Regions from separate parts of the Homo sapiens genome. Here region 1 is reported to be linked to region 2. The links are microRNA targets in miRTarBase. Many come from high-throughput screens and were not tested one by one. Region 2 holds a microRNA gene; the other region holds the end of a gene's coding sequence.

Region 1 (4,515 bases), not on the chromosome of region 2:
ACTTGCAGCACCCAAACTGCCACAAAACAAGCAAGTAACTGTGCCCTGCTTCCCTAGCTCTAATCGGATGCTCCCACACCACTTGGCTGTTCAGTTCCTAGGTCCCCTGAGACCCAGTCCCATCAGGGCTGGACTTGGCAGGCAGGAATCCCCTGGCATTCACTCAAGCTGGCAACAAAGGAGAAGCTGGCATGAAACTTAAATTCCACCTTGGCTCTCAGCCCTAAATCCACCGTGCCTGTCTGGGAGTGTCATGGCATGCGTCTTGGAGCCAGAGAACAAAAGATGGCAAGTGCTGCAGGCCCAGACAGGCAAGGACCACAGCCCATATATCCTGCACCACTGTGCTGCCTTCCAACAATTTTGTCTTCAAGAACAGCACCTAGACACGCATTAGGAGGGAAAATTACACTTCCACCAGCACAGGCATGTTCGCCCCTTCCCAGCTGGTAATTGAGTTTCGTCGTCAGAGCTATCACCTAGATCAGGTAAGAAAATGGGTGAAAAGTACGCCAAGTGCCATTACTGGTCAATTTTACTTAAAACAGTTTTCTCAAACCTGGAGAAAGCAAACCATGCACCACCTTGGCTCCTCAACTAGGCTTCCTAAACTACCAAAGAGGCTCTTTAAGCACCTCAACCTTGGGGGAAAACAAAGAAAACAAATCCTCTTCTGCTCTGAACCTGGCCTAGGAGCCCTGCTCCTCTGGACCAGCCCCTGACCTGCTTTTGGGTGGGCTACTACTCTCCTACCCAGTGTAAGGTATGTAAGATGAAGGAGCGTGGGAGAGAGAGAGGGCCCAGGCCTAGTTTCTGCTATTCCATCTGGACCATTCTATTATAGGACTCAAAGACAGATACAGAGAGAACTTTGGAATAAGGCCTGGGATAAAATTTTGGTGTTATCACTAAAGAGCTGCTACTTAACCTTCTTTTGTTCTGTTTCATCACCTGTAAAATTGGGTACACCATCTACCTCCATGGGATGCTGGGTTATGGGATAATATACTTAACATACCTTAAAAAAAAAAAAAAGCAAGATTCCCTTTGGCATGCATATAGAATGGGGGAGAATACAAATTAGTTTGGCCCCAGCAACCTGAACCTTCTTCTTCTAGCATAACTCTGGGATCATGACCTCAGAAAAACTTTGCATATACCTTTCCATAGACAAATGTAGTAAACACAACTCAAACCCAAGGCTGAAATGCTATTGGCCGTGACTAATCTGAGGTATGCCTTGGAGAACTGTCTCCACAGTTCAGGCCTTTCTAGACCAGTCCTAAAAAATCTCAAGCACACAAAGTATATTCTTAAATATGGTTTAATACTCTTCTCCATTTCTGTACATCACAACACCAAGATTTTGCTGCTTAGTATCTCTCTGCAGAGGCTATAGAGAATGCAAAGGCTACGGTTTTCACCCCCTCTTATATGTGTTTGTATGTGTAAGTGTAATACATATCAATATATATTGATACACACATCAATATATAATGCAATATATATCACCGAAGAGAACACATTGATTAAAGAAATACAAAAATTTGGCATCATTTCCAAACTTAAATAGTAAAAATAAAAACTACAAAAGGAGCTGCATACCCTAAATGTATCATGTGAAACAACAAGCATATTCAAAAATGTAAATTTACATCCAATTTCTCTGGTCTTGTCATATCACATCAGACCCATTTACAATGGCAAAACCCTAAGGTACTGCTGTGAAGAGAGCATGTTTGCTCGCTCTTGGGTGTTCTGCAAACAAATAGCAGAGCCCAAAGCAAAAAAGCCTGTTCCGGTGAAGTCTCCCACGTTGGTGAACACCAAATAATGGACTCTTCTCACAGGGGGTTGAGACATCAGGTTACACATTGACAGACAGTATTTGGACCTCAGAGTACAGTGTGAGAACCAGAAACTTTACATTTAAGACATACTCCCTTCATTCAAGTGAAACAGGATTATTGGAACGATAGGCAGGTCTGTAACCTGGGAACAAGGAGCTGGTTCAGACCAATAAAGCTACGAGTGACTGAATCAAGTCAGTAAAGAACAGCAGTCAGGCACTAAAGTGTTAAAAGTACCCAATTTGAAAACCAAATGCACCCCACTACCCTAGTCAGTGTGGAGGTGATACCAATTGACTTTTAAAACCTTTGGTCCTTCAAAGTCCATTTGGTATACTTTTTTCCATCGCTACCACTGGGCACGTACTATACACTTTGTTCAACTGTCACCACCCTGGGCACGCCATGACCTTGCATATCAGCTGGGTTCAAGTCTGACTTACAGCCCAGCTGTGAAGCATAAGCTTCAGGGTTTCAGGCCAACTTTTGGATCCAACATGGTCTTAAATCCATGGTGCCAGAAGCTGTGTCCCATCCCTTCCCACCCGCCCCTAATTTCTCATGTGAGAAGTGCTTGTAAGTCCCACATTTGAAACAGATGCTCCAACCCCACCAGGAGGTCAGGAGTTTATAATTACATGCAGTCATACATGTCTGTCGTTCCTGTGAAAAACCTTGCAGTTCATTTTAATAAATCAAAACATTCACATAATCTCATGCCATCCAACACAAGGAAAACACATCCACCTCCCTTTTAACAAGGATTGACCCAAGCAAAATAAAATCCTCTTTAAATTTCTTCGCTTCCACTTAAATTGCATGTTTTATTTCTCCCAATCCCAGCAATAGCACAGAAGCCCCATCATATCCATCCCAAACCGGTTTCGAGTAGGTTAAGGTTATAGGGACCCTTGTCAGAACATTGATACAAAGGGCTCCCAAACGCCGGGCACAAATGTGTCTGCAAACAGATGGAAGTAAACAGTGCACTGGCCCAAATGCTTCATGAGTCAGTTTGATTTTGCAATGCAATTTGCATCCTTGAAACTGCCAGTCTGGAGGGGGACGGGGTAGCGTGAGGGAGTGAAGTTGAAAGTGCCTCCTATTAGCTCACCCTTTCAACATTAAACAGAGACCAAGAGAGAAATGGTTCCAACATTTCACCACATATATTTCTTCTTACGCAGTCTAAGCTGAGAATGCCATGTAAATGGGTCACTGCGAAATGCAGCAATTTAATTTTTCTCCAATCAAAATAAGAAACAAACCAGTATGATCTCACTTCTATTAACTTTTGAAGGTTTACAGCAGTTAAAGTATTTTTGCTTCTATGTATGAAGGTTAAAAAAATCATTTTTTTTCATAAAATACAAGAGCAACCAATTTCACCATCCAGTAAAAGTAAAAACTGGGATTCTTTTTTAAATTAGTCCAAAGTGGCGTTTAGGAACTTAGTTGTAGGCTGCTGCGCTGACACCATGACAAACCAAAGTGTAGGGCTGGGTCTGGTTTTGTTTCGGTTTTCTTTTCAATATCCAATGCTCATGGATTAAGTTCTGGAAATGTTCCAATTGTAAGGCAGGGATCTGTTTGGATTCCACCATGGGTATGCTCCTTGGGTTGGATGCTGGAGGGTGAGGCACGTTTTGCCGGACCCATGTCGACTACCTAGTAGTCATCAAGGTCAAAAAATTCATCGTCTCCTCCTTGGTATTCCATTCCCTGGAAATCTACTCGGTACCGCAAGATACCTGGGGAAACAAACCAAAAGGTAAATTACCTGTGTTCATGGGATGGGCATGTGTGTAGGTGGCTGGTAAGGGAATAAGGGAAGCCCTATTCTCTTGCAGAATTGCAGAAAGCAAAGAGGTAATAATAAACATGGGTCCAAATTAGGAACCTGCACCTGCTGCGTCAATCACCTATCCCAGCAGATAATAAGCACCTCACCGGAAGCAGGGCTAGGGCTAGCCAGGAGGGACCTTGACCTGAGACCCTGGTTTTAAGTTTGGTTTGCTGATTTGCTACTCACCTCCAATTCCACCAAATCCTTTCACAAACTGAGACCCTTCTTGTGATTTATCTGTGACAATTTCCAACGTAGCTCCAAATTTTTTATAGTTGTTAGCAAACCATTCCAACAGGGGCATGCTCTCGATAAGCTCATGTTCCTGTCCGGTCTACAGGGATGACCATGAGATACAAAAATGGGGGATTAGGATATATGAAGGCTAATTAGTCCCTCTCACAGCCCCTTGCCCACCTATCACTCTCATCCTCCCATTTATAGGCATGTCTGTGTGTAAAGCTCTGTAAGTCATCTCTGGTTTTGATAACCTAATGGATATCAGCAGAGAAATTCGGATTATTTCAAACAACACTTCTCCTCAGGCTCTACCCTCAGCTATGAAATACCAACACAAAAACTCAGTGGGTATTCAGCTTATGATTCCTACTGTTGACTCTAGAAGTCAGGCTGTTGTAGTGTCTCTAAGCAGCACCCATTCAATGGCTCAGAAGAGACATTCCAGGACTGCTTTTGGGAGTGGCCTCGTAGAGAACAAAGCTCTCCAAACCAGAATTTGAGGAAGCTATCATTTAAACCTATCTCATACGGGAGGGTCATACTTTCAACTGTTGTGATGCACTTAGAGCAAACCAGAGA
Region 2 (4,000 bases):
GAAACTGGTGATCTTTTTTTTGACGGAGTCTCGCTCTGTCGCCCAGGCTGGAGTGCAGTGGCATGGTCTCGGCTCACTGCAACCTCTGTCTTCCGGGTTCACGCCATTCTCCTGCCTCAGTCTCCCGAGTAGCTGGGACTACAGGCGCCCGCCACCACGCCCGGCTAATTTCTTTTTGTATTTTTAGTAGAGACGGGGTTTCACCGTGGTAGCCGGGATGGTCTCGATCTCCTGACCTTGTGATCCGCCCGCCTTGGCCTCCCAAAGTGCTGGGATTACAGGCGTGAGCCACCGCGCCCGGCCTGGTGATCTTTTTAATAAGCGTATGGCATGAGTCACCCCATGGCTGCTGGTGAGCTGGGGGCCTTGCCTTGCCTGGTGCTGAGGGGCCAGGAGTTTCACCCGCCAGTACAAATATCAATACTGTGCAAAAGGCAAATAACGTCTGTTATTCTGAAGACAGTTCTGACCTCCTAACCTTTCTGTAAAGGTCTTGGGAGCCCGCAGTCCATGGTCTGTGCCTTGAATACCCACTGGTGAGATGCAGCTTCATCTCATCCGCATGGATCTGGGCTGCGCTCACGCCCCTGCTCCTTTGGGGCTTTTCTGAATGTGAGGCCTTCCCTGACCTCCATATTTAAAATCAGCCCCCCTTCTGCCCCTCACTCCAGCCCTCTAATTTTTCCCCATGTCTCTGTCTCTAACATGCTCTGTCCATTTTGTCTGCCTCCCTCCACTAAAATGTAAGCTCTGGATGGCAGAGATTTTGAGCTGTCTTGTTCCTTGCTGTATCCCCAGCAATTAAGAGTAGTATCTGGCATGTGGAGGTAGTAGCCTGATACGTATTTCAATGAATGAGTGAGCGAATGTGCCTGGGCCACTTTCCGGGGGTCTCCTGGCAGGCCCAAGGGGAGCAGCTCATTGCCCTTGAACTGGCCCCCCTGGGGGTCCGTGCTCCCCACCCCTGATGACTTGTCTTGTTCTCCCTGGCTCCTCAGCCAGTGCTGCCCCACACCGCCGTGTGCCTTGTGTGTGGCGAGGCGGGGAAGGAAGACACGGTGGAAGAGGAGGAAGGCAAGTTTAACCTCATGCTCATGGAGTGCTCCATCTGCAATGAAATCATCCACCCTGGATGCCTTAAGGTGAGTGGCCCAGTGGGGACAGGTGGTGCTGACGCTCTGGGGCAGGTAGGGTTGCTGGAGATGCTGGTGAGATGGTGGGATGCAGGTCGTGCAGTGAATTCCTGGAGGACCCCTGAGTCTGGGTGATCCTGTGTGTCAAGGGATAAGCCCGGGGCAAGGAGGGCCTGGAGTACCTCAGAGACCCAGTGTCATCAAAGGAATAAACACACCCCCACCTCCCAGGATGTCAGAACCAGAGAGGGTTTCCAGAGCCTCAGCAGATGGCAAACACAGGCTGCTTGTTTGTAGCTGGGCCAGAGGAAGCGCCTCCAGGTGGCTCCAGGCTTCTGGGAGAACAAGGCCCCACACCACACTCCTTCCCCCAGCACCCAGTAGAGTCCTCTGCAGAGTCCTTTCTGCATGCCAGGCGCTGAGCTCATGGCTTTACCTGGGTCATACCCCCCCAGTGAGATGGGCACACTAACTTTTATGGCCGAGGGCACCAGCCCACAGAGACGGAGTGTCTTGCCCAGGGTCCCAGAGAAGCAAAGGGGCTCAGCCTCTGAACCCTGGCCTGGATCCACAGCTGCCCGTCTCTGCCAGCCTCTGCAGCTGTGTTTTCTTTTGCCTGGAAACGGGATAGATGTGACGTTGGGGAGGGGGTGCTGCTGCTTCTGGAAGACGTGGCGTCACAGAGCCTTGTGCCCGTGGGCCATCTTCTCCGCCCGTCCCTCTTCTGAGTCCTGGTGTTCCCCGCAGATTAAGGAGTCAGAGGGTGTGGTCAACGACGAGCTTCCAAACTGCTGGGAGTGTCCGAAGTGTAACCACGCCGGCAAGACCGGGAAAGTGAGTGCCGGGCTCCAAGTCCCAGGGTCAGTCGGGAGAGGGGCGGGCCTGGGCCTGGCCGGGACCAGCCTGTCCCAGGAGTTTCAGGCAGGTGGGTTGCCGTCGGCCTGGGGAGGAGGAAGGGCAAGTCCAAAGGTATACAGTTGGTCTGTTCATTCTCTCTTTTTGGCCTACAAGCAAAAGCGTGGCCCTGGCTTTAAGTACGCCTCCAACCTGCCCGGCTCCCTGCTCAAGGAGCAGAAGATGAACCGGGACAACAAGGAAGGGCAGGAACCTGCCAAGCGGAGGAGTGAGTGTGAGGAGGCGCCCCGGCGCAGGTCGGATGAGCACTCGAAGAAGGTGCCGCCGGACGGCCTTCTGCGCAGAAAGTCTGACGACGTGCACCTGAGGAAGAAGCGGAAATACGAGAAGCCCCAGGAGCTGAGTGGACGCAAGCGGGTACGGACCAGGAGGGGCTGGGAGGCAAAGGGGTTGGTCTGGCTGGTCCCGGGTGCTGGGTTGGAGGGATGGGGCAGGGGGTGGGCAGCAGGTAGAGCTTGGGATAATCCCGGCCTCTTGCTGCCCTGAGCAGGTCACCTAAGTCCTGAGAGCCCTGCCCCAAAGAAAGGAGGGGAAAACCAGCGAGTCACTCCTCTTCCCACTCCACCCCCCTTTAGGCCTCATCGCTTCAAACGTCCCCCGGTTCCTCCTCTCACCTCTCGCCGAGGCCCCCTCTAGGCAGCAGCCTCAGCCCCTGGTGGAGATCCAGTCTCACTTACTTCCAGCAGCAGGTGCTCCCACGACGCACGCCCTCCTGAGGCCCCGGGGACTGGCGAGTCCTGGGCTGTCCCCCACCCCACCCCGCTGGTCCTCCACCCCACTGCTGCCTCTCCTGAGGCTTCCCAGGTCTCGGCCCCAGATCTCTGGCTCGTGGTTCTGGCTTGGGGCCTGGGAAGCTGTCTGTGCCTAGAGCCTCTGTTGGTTGGGATGGAAGCTGTGAGTCCAGGGAACCTCTGAGGAGCCTGGTGGCCCTGCTCCACCCACGGGCCGTGCTGTCACCAGCCACAAGGTGGCGCCAGGAGTCTCTCCCAGCTCTAGCCATTCCTGCTGGGCCGGGGATTCCCACAGGGCTGTGCTCCAGAACTGGCTCCCAGAGCCGAGGATGATTTGAATGGGCGGCTGCACATCTCCAGGTCTGTGGGGTGGGAGGTCAGTTGGGTGGGAACAGTTCAACTGTACTCCTACTTCCAGCTTCTTCCTTGAAAGCTGCAGGCAGGGCTCGCCCGTCTGTCGGTCAGACGTGGAGATGGCATTTGTGGGGAAGGCCTCCCTCCAGCCCCTCCTCTGGAGACTGTGGACTCGTGGTGGGGTGGGGTGTCGAGGAGACCAAATCCCACGAGCCCGGGGAGCAAGCTCTGCGTCCTTTCTTTTTCGTGACAGCTCAAACCTGGCAAAGAAGATAAGCTTTTCAGGAAAAAGGTACCATCTTCCCCTCCCTCCTGTGCCCCAGGCCTGAGCGGTTAGAGCTGCACCGCAGCTCCCTGGGCCACAGTCCCGTGGCAGGGGGGCGGGAGGCCTTGGGCGGGCGCAGCCCTGAGCCCCAGAGGCTGACGCGTCTCCGCTCTCGCCCTCAGCGGCGGTCCTGGAAGAACGCCGAGGACCGCATGGCGCTGGCCAACAAGCCCCTCCGGCGCTTCAAGCAGGAACCCGAGGACGAACTGCCCGAGGCGCCCCCCAAGACCAGGGAGAGCGACCACTCCCGCTCCAGCTCCCCCACCGCGGGACCCAGCACCGAAGGGGCCGAGGGCCCGGAGGAGAAGAAGAAGGTGAAGATGCGCCGGAAGCGGCGGCTTCCCAACAAGGAGCTGAGCAGGGAGCTGAGCAAGGAGCTCAACCACGAGATCCAGAGGACGGAGAACAGCCTGGCCAACGAGAACCAGCAGCCCATCAAGTCGGAGCCTGAGAGCGAGGGCGAGGAGCCCAAGCGGCCCCCGGGCATCTGCGAGCGTCCCCACCGCTTCAGCAAGGGGCTCAACGGCACCCCCCGGGAGCTG

The links. Region 2 holds the annotated microRNA hsa-miR-7107-3p (UGGUCUGUUCAUUCUCUCUUUUUGGCC, at 2,112-2,138, shown strand). A microRNA usually pairs through its seed, bases 2 to 8, with sites in the 3' UTR of a target mRNA and lowers its output. Matches are read on the target gene's strand: a 7mer-m8 pairs with bases 2 to 8, a 7mer-A1 pairs with bases 2 to 7 and ends in A, and an 8mer does both.
Region 1: miRTarBase lists ETF1 as a target of hsa-miR-7107-3p. Seed matches in the 3' UTR shown: 7mer-m8 at 1,983-1,989.

The regions. Positions count from the first base shown.
Region 1 is chr5:138,504,787-138,509,301 of GRCh38, forward strand. It overlaps ETF1 (eukaryotic translation termination factor 1), which reads right to left. Exons shown (of 11, transcript NM_004730.4): 10 at 3,883-4,030; 11 at 1,309-3,601. The coding sequence ends at 3,519. Among named protein-coding and RNA genes, the nearest start is that of ETF1, 36 kb to the right of the region's middle.
Region 2 is chr12:121,442,417-121,446,416 of GRCh38, reverse strand. MIR7107 (microRNA 7107) reads left to right here and starts at 2,065; the gene lies at 2,065-2,144. It overlaps KDM2B (lysine demethylase 2B), which reads left to right. Exons shown (of 23, transcript NM_032590.5): 14 at 999-1,142; 15 at 1,881-1,967; 16 at 2,145-2,405; 17 at 2,624-2,737; 18 at 3,387-3,425; 19 at 3,581-4,000.